Linked DNA regions of Homo sapiens: region 2 is linked to region 1. A link means that fine-mapping ties the variant in region 1 to the expression of a gene that starts in the linked region. Tissue or cell type: ovary. Region 1 holds a variant in brackets; the other region holds the start of a gene. All regions are shown on one strand. Distances are between the middles of the regions.

Region 1 (11,124 bases):
TTTGGGGAGGTGGTATGGAGAGATAATGGGCGATGTTTCTCAGGGCTGCTGTGAGCAGGATTAGGGGTGGCATGGGAACCTAGAGTGGGAGAGATTAAGCTGAAGGAAGATTTTGTGTTAAGGGGTGATATTGTGGGGTTGTTAGAAGGAGCATTTGTGTATAGAATGATTGGTGATGGCCTGGATATGGTTTTGGATGAATTGAGAAACTAAACAGAAGACACAAGGCCCAAATAAGAGAAGAATAACAGGTATTAAAGGACTAAGAATGGGAAGACCCAGGACATCCAATTAGAGAGTGCCCAAGGGGGTTCAGCATAATTACTTGCTTGGTTGGCAAGTTTTTAGGCTCTATCCTTGAGTTTTTATGTTGTCGTATACTAGGCCAGATTGATTTAGATAAAAACAACACTTCATTAAAAAATATACAGAGTCCCCCCTTTTTAGCAGTAAGTCGGGGCCTTGGCGATTTTGGAGGAAAGAGAAATGCAAAGTCAGCAATTGTTTGTTGAAGAAGGATTAGAAATGGCTAGGAGAGAGTGAGTGAGATTGATAGTGTGGTAGAGATAGCTGGGGAGAGGTAGAGGGTGGCATAAGAACAGAAACGAGAATAAGAGTGAGTTTAAGGTAAAGAATAGGACTTCATCAGGGTGAAAGTATTGGAGGGTGCCCTGCCAGCAAAGATTATTTACTTTAAGAGGGAGTTAAGAGTGGTGGTTTGGGGATAGCACCAGGAGATATCAGCTGTGATGGCTTGGAGAAACAGTGTAAACCGGCAGTGTAAACAAGAGCAGGGCATTTATGAGTAGTTGGGAATGGTGAATAGAAGAATGACTAGACAGAAGATAGTAGGGATGACAAGTTTTTGGGGCACAATCCAAGTTGGGCTGGTGTCTGGAATGAGACTGGGGCCTAATAAAAATGAGCATCCATACAGGAGCTCAAATGGGCTGTACCCTGTAGCATTCCAAGAACAGGCCCGAATTCTGAGAAGGGTAAGTTGTAAAAGTACTGCCCAGTCCTTAAGTTGGAGGCTGAGCTTGGTGAGGTGTGTCTTTAAAAGACCATTAGTCTGTTTTGCTTTTCCTGAAGATTGAGGATGGTAAGGGGTATGAAGTTTCCACTGAATACCAAGAGCCTGAGAAACTGCTTGGGTGATTTGACTAGCAAAGGCCTGTCTGTTATTGGACTGTATAGAGGTGGGAAGGCCAAATCATGGAATTATGTCTGACAGAAGGGAAGAAATGAACACGGTGGCCTTCTCAGACCCTGTGGGAAAGGCCTCTACCCATCCAGTGAAAGTGTCTACCCAGACCAAAAGGTATTTTAGTTTCCTGACTTGGGGCATGTGAGTAAAATTAATTTGCCAGTCCTGGGCAGGGGCAAATCCCTGAGCTTGATGTGTAGGGAAGGGAGGGGGCCTGAACAATCCCTGAGGAGTAGCAGAATAGCAGATGGAACACTAAGAAGTGATTTCCTTGAGGATAGATTTCCATGATGGAAAGGAAATGAGAGGTTCTAAGAGATGGGCTAGCGGTTTGCAACCTACATGGAAGAGGCTATGAAATGACAAAAGAATAGAATGGGCCTGTGAGGCTGAAAGGGGATATTTTCCTTGGTCTAAGGACCATTTTCCTTGTGTGGGAAGAGATTGATAGGTGGAAGTTTCAGTGGGGGAGTAGGTGGGAGTGACCGATGAGAAGGAGAAAAACTGGCAGTTAGGGAGAGAAATTGGAATGCTAGCTGCTTCTTTAGCTATCTTATCAGCATAAGTGTTGCCCTGAGTGATGGGATCTGATGCCTTTTGATGGCCCTTGCAGTGAATGACTCCAGCTTCCTTTGGAAGTATAGCGGCCTTGAGAAGACTATTTGTTAAAGAGGCATTAATGATGGAGGACCCTTGTGTAGTGAAGAAACCTCTTTTTGCCCATATAACAGCATGGTGGTTCAGGATATGGACGGCATATTTAGAGTCAGTATAAATATTGATGTGTACTCCTTTTGCAAGAGTGAGGGCTCAAGTTAAGGCAATGAGTTCGGCTTGCTGAGAGGTAGTGGAGGGGGGAAGAAAGTATATGCATCAGATGTGAGGAAGAAAATAGATTTTGGAAGTTATGACAACTGCAGAGAGTGAGTTGAGCATAGTTTGTGATTTTGAGGACCTCTAAAAGTATTAAAGCAGTGGTACCTGCCACATGCAGACATGAGGGCTAGGCTAAAACAGTAACGTCAAGTTGTTTGGACAGAAAGGCTAAAGGGCGTGGTCCCAGCTCTTGTGTAAGAACTCCAACTGCACAGCCCTGCACTTCAGCTGTGTGTAGTGGAAAGGGAGTGATAAGTTAGGGAGAGCTAGTGTGGGAGCTGTTTTTTAAGGAATGGATAGGGGAGTGGAGAAAGGATTTAGGATCTATGGGGTCAGCTAGGTTTACCTAGAACAGAATAATGGGTTGTGGAGGGAGGTATTGAGGATAGGAGAGTATATGAGGTTTCACACCACAGGGTGGATACGCAAAACAATTTGGTTGATAAGGCACAGATCCTGACGTAACCTGTAAGACTTGTCCAGTTTCTGGACAGGTAAAATGGGGGAATTGTAAAGAGGGTTTATAGGCTTTAAAAGGGCATGCTGTAACAGGCAAGTGATAACAAACTTTAATCCTTTTAAAGTTTGCTGTGGGATGGGGTATTGGCATTGAGTGGGATAAGGGTTATTAGGTTTTAATGGGATAGTAATGGGTATGTGACCAGTTGCCAGGGAGGGAGTAGAGGTGTCCCATACCTGTGGATTAAGGTAGGGAGATACAAGGGGAGGATTTGAAGGAGGCTTTGAACTGGGGAAAAGGGTGGCAATGAGGTGTGGCTGTAGCCTAGTCAGGGAAGCAGATAATCTAGTTAAAATGTCTTGGCCTAATAAGGGAGCTGGGCAGGTGGAGATAACTAAAAAGGAGTGCATAAAAGAATATTGTCCAAGTTGGCACCAGAGTTGGGGAGTTTTGAGAGGTTTAGAAGCCTGGCTGTCAATACGCACAACAGTTATGGAGGCAAAGGAAACAGGCCCTTTAAAAGCAGGTAATGTGCAGTGGGTTGTCTCCATATTGATTAAGAAGAGGAAGGACTTACCCTCCACTGTAAGAGTTACCGAAAGCATCTGTGATGGTCCAGAAGGCTTCTGAGGCAAGTGGGCAGTGTCAGTCTTCAGCCACTGAGCCAAGAAGATCTGGGAAGGAGTCAGTCAGAGAGCCTTGGGCCAGAGTTCCAGGGGCTCTGGGAGTGGCTGCCAGGTGAGTTGGACAGTCCGATTTCCAGTGGGGTCCTGCACATATGGGACACAGCTTAGGAGGAATCCCAGGCTGTGGGCATTCCTTGGCCTAGTGGCCAGATTTCCAGCACTTGAAACAAGATACTGGGGGAGGAGGTCCTGAAGAAATGCCTGACTGCTGTGGCTTAGGCGTTTTGAAGTTCTTGTGTGCTGGAGATGTGGCTGGAGTTTCTCTCACAGCAGCGGCAAGTAATTGCAACTCTTCTGTATTATTGTACACCTTGAAGACAAGGTTAATTAAGACCTGTGTGGGGTTTAAGGGCCAAAATCTAATTTTTGGAGCTTTATTTAATGTTGGGAATGAATTGCGTAATAAAATGCATATTGAGAATAAGACAGCCTTCTGACCTTTCAGGGTCTAGGGCTGTGAAGCGTCTCAGAGTTGCTGCCAAATAAGTCATGAACTGGGGTGGGTTTTTACATTTGATGAAAAAGAGCCTAAACACTAACTGATTTGGGAGAGGTCGGATAAAGAAAAAGGAGCATTAACCTTGACTATGCCTTTAGCTCCAGCCACCGATTTAAGAGGAAATTGCTGGGCAGGTGGCGGGGGCTAGTCGGGGAAAGAAACTGTAAGTCGGACTGGGTGTGAGAAGGGGAGGTGATAGAAGGATTATAGGGTGGGGGAGCAGAGCCTGAGGAAGAATTGGAGCCTGATTCAGCCTGGTGGGGAGCGACCTGAGGAGGAGCAGTCTGGGGATGAGGGGAGAGGTCAGATGGGTCTGTAGAAAAGGAATATTGAAAAGACTCAGTGATGCTTGGGGTTAGGACTGAGGGGAAGGGTGGAAGGGAAAGAAGGAGGATTTGGGATGAGTCACATTGGGAAAAGAGACTAGAGAGGGACCCATGTGTAAAAGAATGCATGGACCTCAGGCACCTCAGACCGTTTGCCCATTGTACGACAAGAATTATCTAGATCTTGTAGGATGGAAAAATTGAAAGTGCCTTTTTCTGGCTATTTGGAACCATTGTTGAGTTTGTATTGGGGTTAAGCAGCATTGCAGAAGAAAATAAGGCATTTAGGTTTCAGGTCAGGTGTGAGTTGAAGAGGTTTTAAGTTCTTGAGAACACAGGCTAAGGGAGAAGAAGGAGGAATGGAGGGTGGAAGGTTGCCTATAGTGAAGGAGGCAAGCCCAGAGAAAAGAGAGGGTAGAGACACGGAGAGAAGGGGTGGGGGGGTGTTTGCACCCTAGGAAACTGGTGTTTGTCACTAAGGGTGAAGGATCAAGGCAGGCATCCCTGCGGTGATCAGGCATCTCTGAAACGTGGGTGAATAATCAAGCAGGTGTCCCTGCAGTGATTAAACACCAAGGGAAATCTGTCTTCCCAAGTCCCTGACCGGCACCGGAGTTTTGGGTTCATGGATAAAACACATCTCCTCTGTCTCTACCAGAAAAGGAAAGGAACTGAAATTAAGAGAAGGGAGAGAGTGAAGGATGGTGCCAAGATTGAAAGGAGAAAGAGGTTGAGGGATAGTGAGAGAGGTTGGAGAAGGCAGTAAAAGGAGGCCGCTTACCCAATTTAAAATTGGTGAGATGTTCCTTGGGCTGGTTCATCGGAGGACCAGAGGTCGTAGGTGGATCTTTCTCATGGAGTAAAGAGCAGGAGGACAGGGGATTGATCTCCCCAGGGAAGTCCCCCGATCGAAGTCACAGCACCAAATGTCACGGGCGTCCGTGTGAAGAGACAACCAAACAGGCTTTGTGTGAGCAATAAAGCTTTTTAATCACCTGGGTGCAGGCAGGCTGAGTCCAAAAAGAGAGTCAGCAAAGGGAGATAGGGGTGGGGCTGTTTTATAGGATTTAGGTAGGTAGTGGAAAATTACAGTCAAAGGGGATTATTCTCTGGCAGGCAGGGGTGGGGGTCACAAGGTGCTCAGTGGGGGAGCTTCTGAGCCAGAAGAAGGAATTTCACAAAGTAATGTCATCTGTTAAGGCAGCAACAGGCCATTTTCACTTCTTTTGTGATTCTCCACTTGCTTCAGGCCATCTGGATGTATACATGCAGGTCACAGGGGATATGATGGCTTAGCTTGGGCTCAGAGGCCTGACAGTTTGGATCTGTGTCCTCACCCAAATCTCATGTCAAACTGTAATCCCCATTGTTGGAGGTGGGGCCTGGTGGGTGGTGATTGGATTACTGGGTAGAGTTTTCATTAATCGTTTAGCACCATCTCCCCTTGGTACTGTATAATGAGTGAGTTCTTACAAGATCTGGTCATTTAAAAGTGTTAGCACCTCCCCTTTCCTTTGTTCCTCCTGCTCATACCATGTAAGATGCCTGCTCCCACTTTGCTTTCCACCATGAGTTAAAGCTCCCTGAGGCCTCCCCAGAAACTGATGTTGCCATGCTTCCTGTACAGCCTGCGGAACTGTGAGCCAATTAAACCTCTTTTCTGTATAAATTACCCAGTCTCAGGTATTTATTTATAGCAGTGTGAGAATGGACTAATACAGTTCTTTAAATGAAATATTGTCAGATATTTCTGTTCTCTTGTGACAAGATAGCCTTAACTTTCCCCTCAGCTTGACCAAATAGGTTTCTTCCTGACTTCAGGCCCTTGACCTCCCTTAAGAATATTTGCTTTAGAAAATTTGCTGTAGTTCTTTCTATTTCTTGAGATCTAAATCTTCTTCCAGCCTCTTCCCAGTTTTACAACTCAGGAATATCTTTCTCTAGGACCTGAGAACCACCTCTTTGAAATGTTAACATCAAGGAAGATAGTTCCCCTGTCTCCTGGTTTCTGTGGGTGGGAAGGGTAGGAAACTTGGAG[TG/T]GGGGGGCTTTTTCCAAATTGTGAAACTATCTTTTATCATGAAATAGGAGAAAGTTCATTTTGTTCTTTTGGTATGGGGAATTAGTAAACACAGATGGTTTAAAAATTTTTCCACCCTAGCCCTTTTGTCTCTGCCTCACTACGTATCAGACTCAGTTTGTGCCTTCTCCCCTAATGCTGGCAATAGCACCAGAACAAAATCAACTTCTGCTTATCATGTCTGGTGTAATTTTTTCCTTTAAACTTTTGGTTATGATTTCCCTCAAATTCCCTCAAGTCCCTCTCTTCCTGTTTTTTTTTTTTTTTTCTTTTGTCTCACAATTTATTAGGCAGCCAAATAATATACTTCTGGAAATGCGTGCATCTTACTTCTCCCATTCTATTAATATTAATATTTTCTCAGGGGAGAAATGTGTCCAAGATGCTCTGAAACCACATACTGCCTAAGAGAGCACTGCATGTGCTCAAGCCCTGTTTATTGACAAAACATTTAACTTCCAAAGCAAACTACAGCTGTTAGTTAACTTTAAAAACATGCCATGATTTAAAAAAAATATTTGTATTGTTTTCTGCCAACAGAAATAGCATTTTTTCCCCCCACAATGGCTAGGAGAAGAGACTCTGAATCCTACTTATCTCTTTTTCTATAAAGATGCAAAATTTTGGGTAGAGAAAGAAACTGGATTTAAGGAGGAGTCTCCAAGTTGATTTCTTCAAAGGAGGTCTCAAGAAGAAAAATAGGACTCCAGTGTTGTAGAAGATTTTCTGGAATTTAGTTAGGAATACAGGGATGAACAGAGGTGCAGAGGGAATCCTAGTGTGAGATGTACCATGCTTTTAGAGCCAGAAAGTGAGGTGTCCTTCCTCTCTTCACTTGGGCCTTTTGAAAGTATTAGAAAAAAACTTGTCCCCTAAACTTGATCCTGAAGTCTCCTAACTGCCCTTGGCAATGTCAAAGCTTGGGAGAAAATTAAGGCTTTGTTCAGTTTACTATCATCCACATTATATATTTTAATACACACATAGTAGAGAAACCAGTGTACAGAGAAATGAAGAGATGTGCCTAAGGTCTTTGTGCATGCAGCTTGTGGCAGCATTAGGATGTGGATTCCAAATCGCTCAGTCTGGTCTTCCTCCCCATGTACCATGCTGCCTTTCTCCTGCAGAGTTTGGGGGTTTGGAGGACCAAGGAGTAGGGGCTGGATGTTGAGGGCAGTGCAGTTTCCTGCAAGAGGTGGCTTTTAGTTTCTTCTTTGAAGCCAATTCTGTCAGACCACATGCTGTTGTGGTGGTGGAGAAAGCCTGCAATGGGAATAAAAAAGATACATATCATGCATTTTTTAAACAACTTTGGGTACTGAGGTTGGTAGGAACTTTCATACCTCAGCTGTGGAAATGTTTCTCAGTATTATAAGTGACATTTAAAGTTATTAGCAGCAGCAGCAAAGAGTCATGTGACTTGGGGTTTCTGCTCTTTTCATCATGAGGTGAGATTCCTGCAAGAGTTTACCTCTTACTGTTTAATACTTATAAAGGCATACATTTATACCTTTATTTTTTTGTATGGATTGCTGAACACTGTTGGAGAATATCACTAAACCACTATCAATTCATGTTCTGCACCTTGAAATGAGCCTAACATTATTCACCTATTCAACTAGCAATGCATTTTCTATTAATAAGTATTTCTCTTGTTTTTTCTACATAGTAGAATTCTCAAATTTTTACCATTCCTTTCCTGACTCACACTTTTTAGTAATGACCCCACAGGAAAAAGAGAGAAAGAAATAGGCAGAATTTTTCTTGACTTCCTCTCCAGATGACCAATATAACCATATTGACACTTAAAATTTTTTTCCATTTTTTTTTCCCTTTAATCTCAGAGAAATATCTGTCACACTACTTTATGGCTAGCTACACCCTCCAAAAGTGCCTTGAATCTCATCTCATCCCAGTTCTCAGTGACTTCACACCATTAACATCCCTGATATAGTTTGGCTCTGTGTCCCCACCCAAATATCATGTTGAATTGTGATCCTGAATGTTGGAGGTGGGGCCTCATGGGAGGTGATTGGATCACAGAAGCAGATTTCCCCCTTGCTGTTCTCATGACAGCGAGTGAATTCTCATGAGATCTGGTTGTTTAAAAGTGTGTAGCTCTTCCCCCTTCTCTCTCTCTCCTGCTGACCATGTGAATATGTGCTTGCTTCCCCTTCCCCTTCTGCCATGAATGAAAGTTCCTGAGGTCTCCCTAGCCATGCCTCCTGCACAGCCTGTGGAACCATGAGCCAATTAAACCTCTTTTCTTTACCCACTCTCAGCTAGGTCCTTACAGCAATGTGAGAAGAGACTCATACAATTCCTTCCCTCCTAAACCATAGCCTTTCCCATTCTATTGATTCTTTCCTTCCAGGGAAATATTTACTGTATGCTTAAACTTTCACCATCCTAGAAAAAAATTATTTACCTACTTTCTTTTCAACATTTCTTATTCACTTTTCATATTAATATTTTAAAGCCTTGTCACCCAAATAAAAATATTCTTATCAAGGTTAGTAATTGTTATCTAGTCACAAATACAATGGTATCTTTGCATTTTCCTTCCTATTGGATATTTTATGGTAAATGTTACTGAAGACTACACCCTCCTTCTTGAGAGAAACATCACTTGGTTTCTATTTGCAACCTTTTTCTAATCAATATTGCTCCTTTATATACGTTGTTCCTTGATAAAACTTTAAATATTAATATTTCTAAGTTGTTTTTTTTTTTTTACTTCAGATTCTGATTCTGCATACTTTCTTGGGTGAACTATCTTTCCTCATGCCGTCACCTATTATAAGTAAGCCTTGAACTCCAAAAAGCTCAATTCCTAGATTCCTTTATCCAAACTGCCTTATGGACTGTTGTTTGAGTTTGCCCTCCAAAATTCATGTTGGAATTTAATTGCCATCGTGATAGTATCAAGAGGTGAGGTCTTAGGGAAAAAATTAGGATTAGATAAACTCATCAGGGTGAGGCCCCATGATGGGAATCTTGGCTATATAAGAAGAGGAAGGGAGACCTGAGATGGCATGCTCTTGCTTTTTTACCATGTGATATCCTCTGCCATGTTATGATGCAGAAAGGAGGCCCTCACCGGATGTGGTCCCTCAACCTTGGACTTCCCAGCTCCCAGAACTGTAGTAAATAAATTTCTTTTATAAAGTAAAATACCTAGTTTGTAATGTTCTATTATAGCAACAGAAACCAATGAAGACATGAACCTCTTTATCACAGTATTTTAGAAGTACCTTACACTCACCATGTTCAGATATGAACTCATCAGCTTTTTCTAAATAGTCAAACAAGATGACTAGATACTCTTTCAGTACAGTGTTAATCTTGACTTTCTATTTACACTGCTATTTTATAGTTTTGCAAGAGCAGAGATTACCTTAGTGATTTATGTTGGGTAGAGATGCAAATAATTTCCATCCAGTGGAACCAGTAATCCCAGAGATAAAGTTTATGCTGTTATTGGATATTAACCAGTTTTGTATCTAATATGGCAATCTGTTAAATTCTCTCTCTGTATAAACTGACTTCTCAAATAGTCTTTGGACCAGGTCAAGCATATTGCTGGTGCCTTCAGTAATTAATGAATTGAGTAAAGTCTTTGAACATGTTTATCTACATTTGCATGAGAGTCATTATTTTACCTTTTTGAAAATTATACTTTAATATATTTGCCTTCCAAATTGTTATTCCTATTTTTACTTCATTCTTAATAAAATGATATTTACATCCATTTAGTTGCCCAAGAGGAAACCTGTATGCCCTATCTTTCTTTCTGTTCCTTATTCCATTTTTCTTCCCCAAACACAAGTCTAATCGGTCCTGGCTTAGATATTTTACCTCCTGAATATCTCAAAATCTCACTCGTCCTCCCCTCTATTCCCACTGCCTTCAGCTTGTTTCTGATCATCACATTTCTCCCTAGGTTTCTGCAGTAGATTCTTAAATTATTTTCCTTACTCTGCCGGCTTCCTACCCAGTCCATCTCCCATACTTCTACCAGAATAATCTTTCTAAAAGACAAATCTAATCACATCACTTCCTTTGTAAATTTTTCAGTGGATTCCTACCTTAGACTAAACCAAAACACTTAAAATAACATAGGAGACTCTGTTTTATAACTTCCTTTCTATTTATCTTTCTTATTTTCAGTTTTGATCTTTCTCCAGCACATCCCCTTTCTCCCACTAGGCATAAGGTGTAGTTTCCATAAGATATTGTGGTATTCCATTCATCTGTCTTTGAACTTACCTTTCTCTCTGCCTAGAATATCAATATTCTGCTTTTCCTTTTTCTACTCTCCTCAGCCACCTTCTCCCTGTTCAATGTTGGACACATCTGTCCAGACTTACCTTCTCTACATCTTTTTTTATTTACTTTTTTTTTTTTTGAGACGGAGTCTCGCTCTGTCGCCCACGCTAGAGTGCAGTGGCACGATCACAGCTCACTGCAAGCTCCGCCTCCCGGGTTCACGCCATTCTCCTGCCTCAAGCCTCCCGAGTAGCTGGGACTACAGGGACCCGCCACTACGCCTGGCTAATTTTTTTTGTATTTTTAGTAGAGACGGGGTTTCACCGTGTTAGCCAGGATGCTCTCAATCTCCTGACCTCGTGATCTGCCCGCCTCGGCCTCCCAAAGTGCTGGGATTACAGGCGTGAGCCACCGTGCCCGGCCTACCTTCTCTACATCTTTGCCAACACACATCGTTAAAAAAAGTAATGCCATCTTCTGAAAGGTTAATTTCTGGTCCCTATGGCATTTAATGAAAATTATTAATAATTACTGATTCTCTTGTCATGTTTTTCACTAAACTATGAGCTCAAAGCATCCTGTGAACATTTCTGCTTATTCTGTATAATGCTTCTCTTGCTGGTGACTTTATAAGAAGGCAAGTACATTTCAGTGGTGACAAAGGTAGTGAGAGTATTGGTACTTAGCATAAAGGGTCAAGGCACACAGTAAATGAAGCTCAGA
Region 2 (10,970 bases), 36 kb after region 1:
TCAACATTGCTTGAACTTTTCTGCTTTTTTGCTTTAGCTTATAGTTTCATCCCCCTTCCTCTCTAATCAAACGAATTCTTTCTACCCTTTAAGGGCCTACTTAAGTCATCTCCTTTCTCTGTCCTACCTGTAGCAACAAACACCCATGCCTGCGCCATATGCAACAAGACAGTAAGTGGCTACCTCTCTTGTCATCATTCACCACTACTTGTAACTTCTCCCCTAAACCCATCATAGAACATAGCACAGTACTTTGCAAAAGAAGGGACTCCATAAGTGCTGTACCTGCAGAGGAGCAAGAATCACCCTGGCACTGGGAAATTATCCCCAATTAGTATTCGTCATAGGACGGGTGCTCCTGACTGTCCTCATGGCCTTGGATCCTAATGTACATTTTTGCACAGTTAGTGAAGAGGAAAAAGGCTTGGAGCATAGTCTTTCCAGTCCTTTGTTGACATAACATAAGGTCACCCAAGTCTGACTTAATTTATGAAGCTTGAACTACCAAATTCTCCTATTTAAAAAAAATATTTTCCAGAGTCTTTCATTTCAAGTTTTTATTCACTTCTTCATCAAAATTTCCTTCTGGAGTTCATCTATCATCTCTCTTGATGCTGCTTATAGTATGTGATCATATTTAGTCTTCTCTATGAGGATAGAAATATAAAGCCTGTAGATATCTGTTCTCCAATTTTCCCATGAAACTAAGAAATTCCCACAGTGGTACTATTGCTTCTTGCCTGAATCCGCCCAAACCCTCATGTCCCCCCTCTGCTACCATTTCCAGCCTTTTGTTCTTTCCTCTTTTCTACATTTCTCTAGACGTTCATTCCATAAATCCTTCTCCACAATCTTTCAAGAGTTCTGGAATCTGGGTTCAGCCAAGTGGAGTAAGATATAATTCTTGTTCTGAGGATGCTATAGTTAAAAGCAGAAATTGTAGTAGATAGGATTGAGGTTAGACAGGAGAAATATCCTCCACTGGTTTAAGATGAGGGAGTTAAGAGCTGTGAAATGAGTATCTTCCAACAAAAATTATTATCAGAGGCAGTAACTGTAGCAGCGGCAGAAAACCTGTAGAGGTATGTCATAATTATGACTCGAAGAATATCGCCTATTTCTAGTCTCTGTTTTCCCAGGGAAGCAGGTGGGGATTCACTACACATTGACACGGGCAAGTCAAAGGTAGGTAGTCATAATAACTGAAATGTATAGAGTACTGCATATTTATCCATAAAACTTTCCTGTAAACTGCTTAACTTAATCCTGACAACCACTTTAGAGCTGATTATGGTTACCTGACCCTCACAGAGATACGTTATTTGTCCAAGGCCACATCCCTGTAGTGCTGAGATTTAAACTCAAGTTGGTCTGACTCCATGTTATATAGTTTTTCCACTGACATTAGAATAAGAAAATGGCCCAATGTCACCATCCAATGTAATTTGGGATTAAAAAAAAAGGAGAAGTTATTTTAGTAAATTCTCCATTTTGCATCTATGTAAGCTCTCCATCTTATAGTCTAGTAGAGAAGAAGCACCATAAACACAATGTAATTTATATTTGGTTCTGTGACAGTCTTAGTGCAGGAAGTGTTGCTTTGTTTGTGTTATTAGAATAATTTCCTTTCTGACTCCAGCTAGGTGATTATGAAGCAGTTTAGCCTTCCTCAGGCTTACAGAGTGGTTTTTTTGGCAAGGGCCCACCTAACTTCTAGTTGGGAGGAGAGAATCTGCCTGGAATTCCGCATTACTTTCAGGTTGTTGTGGCATTCAGAATATTTCATAACGGTTTGGGGCACCACAGAGCAATGAGAGCTGATACCATCACCGCCCTGTGGTGGGGCCCCGCCCGGTACATGGCTGATGTGGCCTTGAATTTCTGGGGCCTGTCTGGGGAGTCTTGAGGAAAGAGCTGGGATAGCTGGGCTGGTCATGGGCACTCAGAGGGCTTGGGAAAGTGGATAATTATCATTAGTAGACATATTTTAATATTTTAGCAACTATTAGCCTACCAGTTTGCACCTGACAAATATCAGCTCTGCTTACAGATACTTCACCATGGGGCAATTTTCAAGGGGCTCAGTAAGGATGACCAATGCTTCTTTTTCTTTAAAGTTCAGAGTGTTATTTAGAAATTAAAGAAAAGGAAAACTGTAGAAAGAGTTTGGGCCTTGGAATCAGAGTAAGCCTAATTTGGAATCATAGTTCTGTCTGCTTTCTGCATATTTGTCCTTGGTAACACTATCTTTTCTTCTATACCTAAGTTTCTTCTTTTTCTTTTTCTTTTGTCTTGCTGTGTTACTCAGGCTGGTCTTGAACACCTGGCCTCAAGCAATCCTCCCACCTTGGCCTCCCAAAGTGCTGGGATTATAGGTGTGAGCCACCACACCTAGTCTATACCTAATTTTCTTCATAAAATAGATACTGTGCCAAACTAGTTGGGTGATTGGCAGTTGTAATCAGGTAACACATATTAAGTCCCTGATGTATAAAGGTGGTGCTTAATAAGTGATAGATATGATTATGATTATGAATCTCCCCTCAGTCTAAGATGTTCACTAAAGTTGAAACATCTTGAGGAATAAGGAAGGAAAGAAGGAAGGAAGAAGGTGAGAATTGCAGGGTACAGTTGACAGTATAAAATCAAGATGGTGAAAAAGATTTTTTAAATCTGTGTTAAGCAGAGATAAAAAGTAAGCAATGAAAAGTCTTTCTTTCCTGGGGCCTGTCCTAGGGTGGGGGGAGGGGGGAGAGATAGCATTAGGAGATGTACCTAATGTAACTGACGAGTTAACGGGTGCAGCACACCAACATGGCACATGTATACATATGTAACAAACCTGCACATTGTGCACGTGTACCCTAGAACTTAAAGTATAATATATTAAAAAAAAAAAGTCTTTCTTTCTTACCTAATTCCCAAAGGGACCAGAGAGATTACCTAATCCTGTTCACTCATTTTGTAGTTGAGGAAACTGAAGAGAGAGAGAAAGGAGGGAGAAAGAGAGAGAGAGAGGGAGGGAGAAGCAGGCTTGCCTGGAGTCACAAAGAATATTAGTGGTTTTAAATGGGAACCAAACTCACAAGTTCTGAGTTCCAGATGCATGCTTTCTTCCTTTATATCATACAGCCTTCCTCCTGCCACACTTGGTTTCCAAGGCCCAGTCCCAGGTTTGCCTTTAGTGCTCTAGGGGACATGTATGAGACAGACCTCTCTTCTCTTCTGTCTGTTTTGTACCTATGCCCCAAGCAGTGCCTGTGAGTTGAGACTGAGAGTGAGAACCAGTGTGGGAGGAGAGAAGAAGGAAATGGGGTTTCCATGATGTGGCCCATAAGACCTTCTGCATCCACAGCCAAGATATACATCATTACCATCGCAGAGCTGCGGGAAATCCCAGAGTAGCTAACATTTCTCTGTTCATGAACTGGACAAACTCCACCTCAACCCAGGTGGATTGTCCCCCATTTGACATACCCCAATCTGCAACAAATTCTCACATTCCTTCATAGAACTGTCTTCTAGCTCCTAACCCTCTTCCATGTCACTCAGGTTGGAAGATCATCAGAACAAGAATTTCCCTGAGTATAATATTTGAGCATTCTGAGACTTCTATTGTCTAAGGAGCAGTTCAATCTGTTCGGGGAAAAGGAGAGATGTTACTTGGTAAATAACAGAAAGAAAAAATGCCCATTAGTCAATAGAACTCCTATTCCCCTCCCTTTTCATACTCTTTCTCCCACAAATAAGCGTAGCTGAATAAATACTGAAAGAAGACCATCTAAGACCTTTTTCCTCTCCTTCCCTTTCTTCCTTACTTCCACTTTTAGGATATGAATTTTAAGAAAGGCTTGTATAATTGCTACAGGAAATATTAAAGTTGTGGATTTGGAAAAAAAATTAATCGCTTGTTCTCAATGTAGGGAGACATCAAATATCTTCATTTGAATGGGCAATAAAGACATCAAGAATAAGAAACAGCAGTTTATCTGAGCTGATTTATAGATGGCTTCATCAAGAGAAAGTAGGGAGAATGAGCAGATTTCTCAACCATTGTGTTAGCTCTGTGAATTCGTATCTTTAATTCTTCAGTTTCATTTCCTTGGTAATAAGCTCTGTCCTGCATATATTCATTTTTCTTCTTTCCTGCTTTTCTTTTTCAATATCTACACACTCTCTTCTCCTCGTCCCTCTACTTATTTGACTGAACTCTTTTCTCAATCTGAAATCTGTGTTTAGGCCATTCTGCATCAGGCCTGGGTGTTGTAAGGCACACAGTACTGTGGGTACTGGAATATCCACTTTGGTCTTGTGCCTTAGGTGGAAAAGAGAACAGTTGTCAGTTTGCAGGTGGAAATAAACGTGTGATCTTTTCCCCTTACTGTAGCCCAGAAGGAATCTTGTAAGTCACAGCATTGGCTGAGACGAGACCTCCATACTAGAATCCAAATCAAACATTGAACTGAAAATGACGGTTGGGGCTTCATGTTCACTACATAATGCTGAATCGCAGGGTTCCATCTTAATTTTCAAAAAACCCAAGAGTTATGAGAACATGTTGGTAGCGTGGTTGTAAATGGTTTCTAAACACCCTGGGGTGCATGCGAATAACTCAGATGTTAAATTGCTTTCTATCCCTTCTGCTATATCTTCAGCTTGTTATTTCTGATAATAGTCCAAGTAGAGACAGACAATAAACCTGACTTCCCTTCTTCCTACTAACACTTCATGCTGCAAGACAATATTGTGAGATCTTTATCTCTAATCACTCAGCTGAACAACTATTGAGTCTGATACTTGGACACACAAGTTGAAGGTTCCTACCTCCAACCTCCCATCCTAGGTACTGCCCTGCACCATCTAGAAAGTCTCCTTACCTCTCTACTCAGGACCATTTGTGGTATACAGAGTCACTAGTACTTCCCTGGATATCTCCTGTAAATGCTCACAGTCTTGTCAAATCACTTCTGTGGAACTCTCCTTTCTTGTCCTTGCCCTGCCCTGGGGACCCACCCTTTTTCTTCCACCCACTGGTGAGCTTAGTGGCACAGAAGGGGCATGGGAAAACCCCAGGGTGGAGGATCTTTCCACTCCTCCATCTACCCCAAAACTCATGTAGGTGGTGATATGCTCTGCCTGCTACCACTGGGGCAAGGGGTGTTGGAGGAGCATGAAGCCCCCAATATTATGTAGGTCACTGAGAAGGCAACACATCCATCTATCTATCTTTGAGATGTGAACCCTGAAATCTGGTCCTGATGGTGGCTATCCATCTATCTTGAGCCTCCCGGTGAATTTGACCTTACCTCACTCAAGTGTGTACATCCTCCCTCGTAGCTGACCTCAATATATCTTGCTGCAGTTTATCTCAACAAGTTTCTTCTACAGCTTCTGAAGAAAGAGGTCATACCCACAGAAAGCAAAGTTGATTTCAGCCAGGTACTCTCAATGGTTGGAGCTATGGACACTAGAGTAGGGCCTGAAATGAAACCGGGAAACTTCTTCCTTGAGAACTTTTCGATGTTATAATCAGATGGAAATTGCAGCAACAATGAGTTCAGCAAGACACAGAGAAGAACTTTGCAGGTGAGAAAGGTGAAAAAAAATTCCTAAAATGTTATTCAAGTCATCAAAGAGACCCAAGTTTTGAGAATCTAGAAAGATTACCTCTCTGATAATAAAGAGAAAACAAACAAACGAAAGCAAAAGGGCACCCAGCATCGTTCTCCTAGGCATAATGATGGATGCTTTTAAGGTTGAAGTAAGAGTGGTGGGAGATTTTCTCTTGATTTTCCCTTGACTTGACAGCCTGATTTTTCTCTGACATGTTTCCTTCTTTCTCCTAGCATCACCCTAAATCAGTACAGCCTTGAAACTGAGATAAAGGCTGTGCTTACCTGTCTGCTGGTAGAAAGCTGAGTTTGAGGCAAAGCAGTTGTCGAAGCTGGGCCGAGGCCTTCACAGGTGTGGGCACAGAGGTGAAGCAAGTGAGAAAGTATCATGTTGTAGATTATGCCTTTCTCCCTGAACTCATTCAACTGCTGTTGCCTGCTCAAAAGGGGAAGCGGAAATGAGAACACACCACACACACACACATCCACACATGTAGATGCAGTCCCCGCCTCCTGGCCCAGCCACATCCTTTGCTCCGGCTCAGGAGACTGAGCGAAGGACAAACCATCCGTAGACACGGTGCTCACAACTAGGAAGACCTTCCTGCCCCAGAGCTGCCTCTGTCTTTCCAGAAAAACAGGAGATCTTTTCCTATTAAGGCAAAGGTACAGTCCATTTAAAGAGGTGTGTGCAGGAGTCTTCCTACCATATAACTAGAATTCCACTGCTGCAGATAAATCCTTCTGTCCTCAGGAGAGCTGTCTGAAAATGGGAAAGCTCTCTCTCATAAATGATCTGGCGTTTATCTCAGAGAAGAAGTTTCCAGTCGTATCACACACTTGAGAGGGCTCTGAGCCAGTCGCTCTGTGTTGATAACTTTCATACTCTGGTAAATTCCCCCGAAGCTTGTTTTTGAATACTGACTACTTTTTTTTTCTGTTAGTTTCTTAACTTTGTTTTATGTTCAAACCACTTCAAAGTTTTTGTTTTTGTAGTAAATGACTGCTTTCCCCAACGTTTTCAAAGCTGAACTTTTAAAATCGGTTACACCCTGAAGATGTCTTCAGTTTATTGGTTTTCAGTTTGGAAAAGGCTTGTTGAACTCTAAAAGGTTTCTCCCAGGCCTCAATCACTTTCACCCACCGGGAGCATCCAGCACTGCTAACTATCCCTCCTCGCTTCTCCAGTATCTCTGAACACTCTTCTCCGTAGGATGCTGCTGCATTTTGGATATCTTCTTTCTGTCTCTCTCCTGATTCTACTGTTTCCTTCTTTAAATCATTTATTTATGAATGTATATCACAATATTTATTCTACAAGGCACTCCTCTAATGTGTTAATTGTGACTGATTTTCACATGTTCATTACCTTCTTTCTGATTTTTTGGCTATAGGTATAGTTAGATTTTTTTTTTACCATGTTTCTAAATTCCATTTCCAATCATCAATGGGACAACTCCATTGAGTATCCATAGTATAGCTATAATATGGTAGAAATAATCCTAAATAAAATTCTTGCTTGGCAAATTAAGTTCTCAAAACATTATTTTCTTCAAGTATAATGTGAGGAAAATAACAATTCTCTCTGTTTCTCACTCAACCCTTCTCCCACGCTATTCCTTTTACGTAGGCATGAAAATATCTAACATATTTTCTCAGGACATAGTAGATGCTAAATATGTGCTTCTCTGAGAATTAGCTTCACAGTCAACAAGTAAAATGCTAAATCCAACACGCCCTAATTCTCTTTATTTACTATTCTTTTCCGTACAAATTAACTATAAAAGCTGAACTAATGGAAACTTAACAACTCTTTTAAATCCTAAGTTTCTAGAATTCAATGTTTTCCTTAACAGTTGTTTTCCAATATGTTTGGGAAATGGAGAATATAACTTCGGTAGGGAGTTTGGAAATATGTGAGAGAGATTTAATTTTCAAAGAAATGGGAAGCTGATACTGGTATTTAGTACCTGAGGGCCAATGATGATAAGTGCTTTTGAAGGGATGGGACTCTTCAGTATAAGGAATAATTGTCCTGGCCCAAATGTCAACATTTTGTTAACATTGATAGTTTGATGGTTAGGAGAGCAGGCTTTAGAGTGAAGCTCTGGCATCAAGTAGCTCTGTAGTCTTGGATACGTTAACATCTCTAGGTCTCAGTTTGTTAGCTGCTAAATGGGGATAACCTTACAGGAGTGGTTGTAGAGCTATAAGAATAAAGGAATACAGAGTATTCAGTCCAGCGCCTACCTTACAGCAAATGCTCAAGAAATTGCAGCTATTTTTAAGACTCTTGAAATATAATAGTTTCTTTTAACTTTTATTTTAAGTTCAGTGGTACATGTGCAAGTTTGTTACATAGGTAAACTCCTGTCATAGGGGTTTGTTGTACAGATTATTTCATCACCCAGGTATTAAGCCTAGTACCCAATAGGTATTTGTTTTGATCCTCTCCCTCCTTCCACCCTCTACCCTCCCATAGGCCCCAGTGTGTGTTGTTTCCCTCTATGTGTCCATGTGTTCTCATCATTTAGCTCCCACTTATAGGTGAGAACATGCGGTATTTGGTTTTCTGTTCCTGTGTTAGTTTGCTAAGGATAATGGCCTCCAGCTCCATCCATGTTGCTGCAAAGGACATGATCTCATTCTTTTTTATGGCTGCATAGTATTCCATGGTGTATATGTGCCACATTTTCTTTATCCAGTCTATCATCACTGGGCATTTGGGTTGATTCCATGTCTTTGCTATTGTGAATAGTGTTGCAGCAAACATACATGTGCTCGTGTCTTTATAACAGAATGATTTATATTCCTCCAGGTATATACTCGGTAATGGGATTGCTGAGTCTAAAGATATTTCTGTTTTTAGGTCTTTGAGCAATCGCCACATTGTCTTCCACAAGGGTTGAACTAATTTACACTCCCGCCAACAGTGTATAAACATTCCTTTTCCTCTGCCACCTCGCCAACATCTTTTATTTTTTGACTTTTTAATAATAGCCATTCTGAGTAGTGTGAGATGGTATCTCATTGTGGTTTTGATTTGCATGAAATATAATATTTTCAGTTTCTGCAGAATACTATGTCTATCTGTCAAAATTACCTCACTCATTAAAGATACCATTTCACAAGCAATTGCTAGAGATTTTTTTGTTAATAAAAAAGATGTATTAATTTTTGGTTTTTATTTATATTTATTCTTAATTTTTATGAGTACATATGTAGGTTTATATGTTTATAGTATTTGTGATTTATTTTTTGAAAGAAATATTTTTCTCTTCTACAAGCAGCTTCTGAAAGACAAAGATGAAGACTATATGATTCCTAGGAGGAGGAGGCGGCCCAGGGTATTCCTCTGTTTATCTTCTTTCTCAGTTGTATAGTCTTTCTCTTTCTTTCTTTGTTTCTTTCCTTCTTTCCCTTCCTTCCTTCCATTCCTTTTCCTTCCTTCCTTCCTTCCTTCCTTCTTTCCTTCCTTCCCTCCTTTCCTCCTTCCCCTTTCTCTTTTTTCCCTCTCACCTGCCCTTCCCACCCTTTGAAAACATTGTCTCTATATCTTTGGCACCATGAACTTCTCTGAGCATATATTCCAGGTGCTTCATGAAAACAAAATGACTTGTTCTTTTTATACGAGACGCAGTAGTTCAGGGTTTCTGAAGGTTTTTTTGTGAGCTTGTTCATTTTTTTTCCCTTGGTTAAAAATAAAAACCCTTATGCTAACTGAGATAATGAATTAGCTCTCTACTGCCTATGTGATTCAGCAGTTTGGTGCCTCATGATAGGGCCTATTTGTCATTCCATGGCTCCCTCTCTTGTGTTTTATAGAATTTAGTAAAAACCCTGAACTAGGGGTAAAAGAGCAATCTGAGTTTAAAACTATACTAGTTACTTAATTTCACTGGATATCGGTATCACCTTCTGACAGAGAAATATTTTCTAAGATCCTCTTGGCTTTAGATGTCAGTAACACCTGTACAGACTATTTTTCTCTACCCTTTTATAACTGCATGTAGTTTATTATGGAAAATGAAAATATTAAGTGATATTTGGTAAGAAATTATTATAAAGGTATTAGAAAAAGTATTTTGAAAGACTCTTTTCCATTGAAAAGCCAAGTAAATATTGCTTTTGAATAATATTATCCTCTAGACATGTAACCTGATAACACTGATAAATAAGAACAATTTCTGAACACTGATGAGCCCATCAAACAGATGGGCTGTAGTGAGTATAAGTTCTGGAGCTGCAGAACTACAGGCTGAGCTGGCAGGTTGCCCAGACCTGGGGCAGAGCCAGGACAGCTGTCCATAGAGGCTGTCCCAAGACAGAGAAGCTGCTGCTCAGAGCCACTGCTCTGGGCCGAGCAGCTGGGCCCCTCTGCCCAGGCCCAGATGCAAATCATCTGCCTCCATTTCAGCTCTCAACCTTCTTCTTTCTCAGATCCTGGGGTTTGCAAATGCCATTTTTGTTTTGTTTTGTTTGGCTGTTTTGTTTTTTTTGCTAAGAGTCTGTTCCTCCAAATTGCTGATGTGGGAATTTGAGTGACTTTGTCTCCTTCCTGTACCAAAGGCTCAAAAGTAGAAAGAGAGAGTGGATAGAATTGTAGGGGAGAGAGCAGTGATTTAACTCACCAAGGATTTTCTGAACTTTCTCCAGGCAGAAAAGTGTCCACCAAGGTCATCTTGTTCTTTTCTCTGCTTCTATGTTCTGGTTGTTAAGGATACAAACAAATGGGATTCTCTAACTTTTCTAACCTACCCATTCTACTAAATTACTCCACTCAATGCCAGAAAGTTCTTCCTTCTGTCTGGCTGTATCTTCCCTCTGTAAGAGTCCAGCAAAACAGAAGAGCAATCCATCTCAGGCCTCTGCAGAGGGTGTTCTTTCAGTGATCTGGATTGTAATTCTACCCAAAATGTATTTTATTGGATACCTTCTGAGTGTCAGAAATGAGATAGATCTGGGGAAGGGACTGAGGGGAGTATAGAAGGAGAGGAAGATATACAAGGGGGAGAAACAGTATCAAATACTGTCCCTTAGAGGGCTTATTTTCTAGTATGATCAAGTAATTTGGGGAAATACAGGGTTAACAAAAGACAAACATGTTCCTTTAAGGCAGTGGTCCCCAACCTTTTGGCATCAAGGACTGGTTTCATGGAAGACAATTTTTCCATGGGAGCAGGGTGAGGGGGAGGGTTTGGCGATGAAACTGTTCCACTTCAGATGATCATGCCTGCCACTCACCTTCCTGCTGTGAGGCCAGGTTCCTAACAGGCAACCAAACTGTGCTGGTCTGTGGTCCAGGGGTTGAGGCCCCCTGCTTTAAGGCATAACTTCTTGAGGCTTTTAATAGATTAA

What was found. PIP is the estimated chance that this variant, and not a neighbour inherited with it, causes the effect.
Region 2: TESPA1 starts here. The variant in region 1 is fine-mapped to the expression of TESPA1 in ovary (GTEx, PIP above 0.99).

The regions. Positions count from the first base shown.
Region 1 is chr12:54,942,996-54,954,119 of GRCh38, forward strand. It overlaps TESPA1 (thymocyte expressed, positive selection associated 1), which reads right to left. Exons shown (of 11, transcript NM_001136030.3): 11 at 5,020-7,395. It also overlaps the pseudogene LOC105369778. Among named protein-coding and RNA genes, the nearest start is that of TESPA1, 36 kb to the right of the region's middle. The variant TG/T (reference allele first, on the strand shown) is at 6,093.
Region 2 is chr12:54,978,688-54,989,657 of GRCh38, forward strand. TESPA1 (thymocyte expressed, positive selection associated 1) reads right to left here and starts at 6,075. Exons shown (of 11, transcript NM_001136030.3): 1 at 5,898-6,075. It overlaps LOC107984515 (a long non-coding RNA gene), which reads left to right and starts at 6,164. Exons shown (of 2, transcript XR_001749161.2): 1 at 6,164-6,278.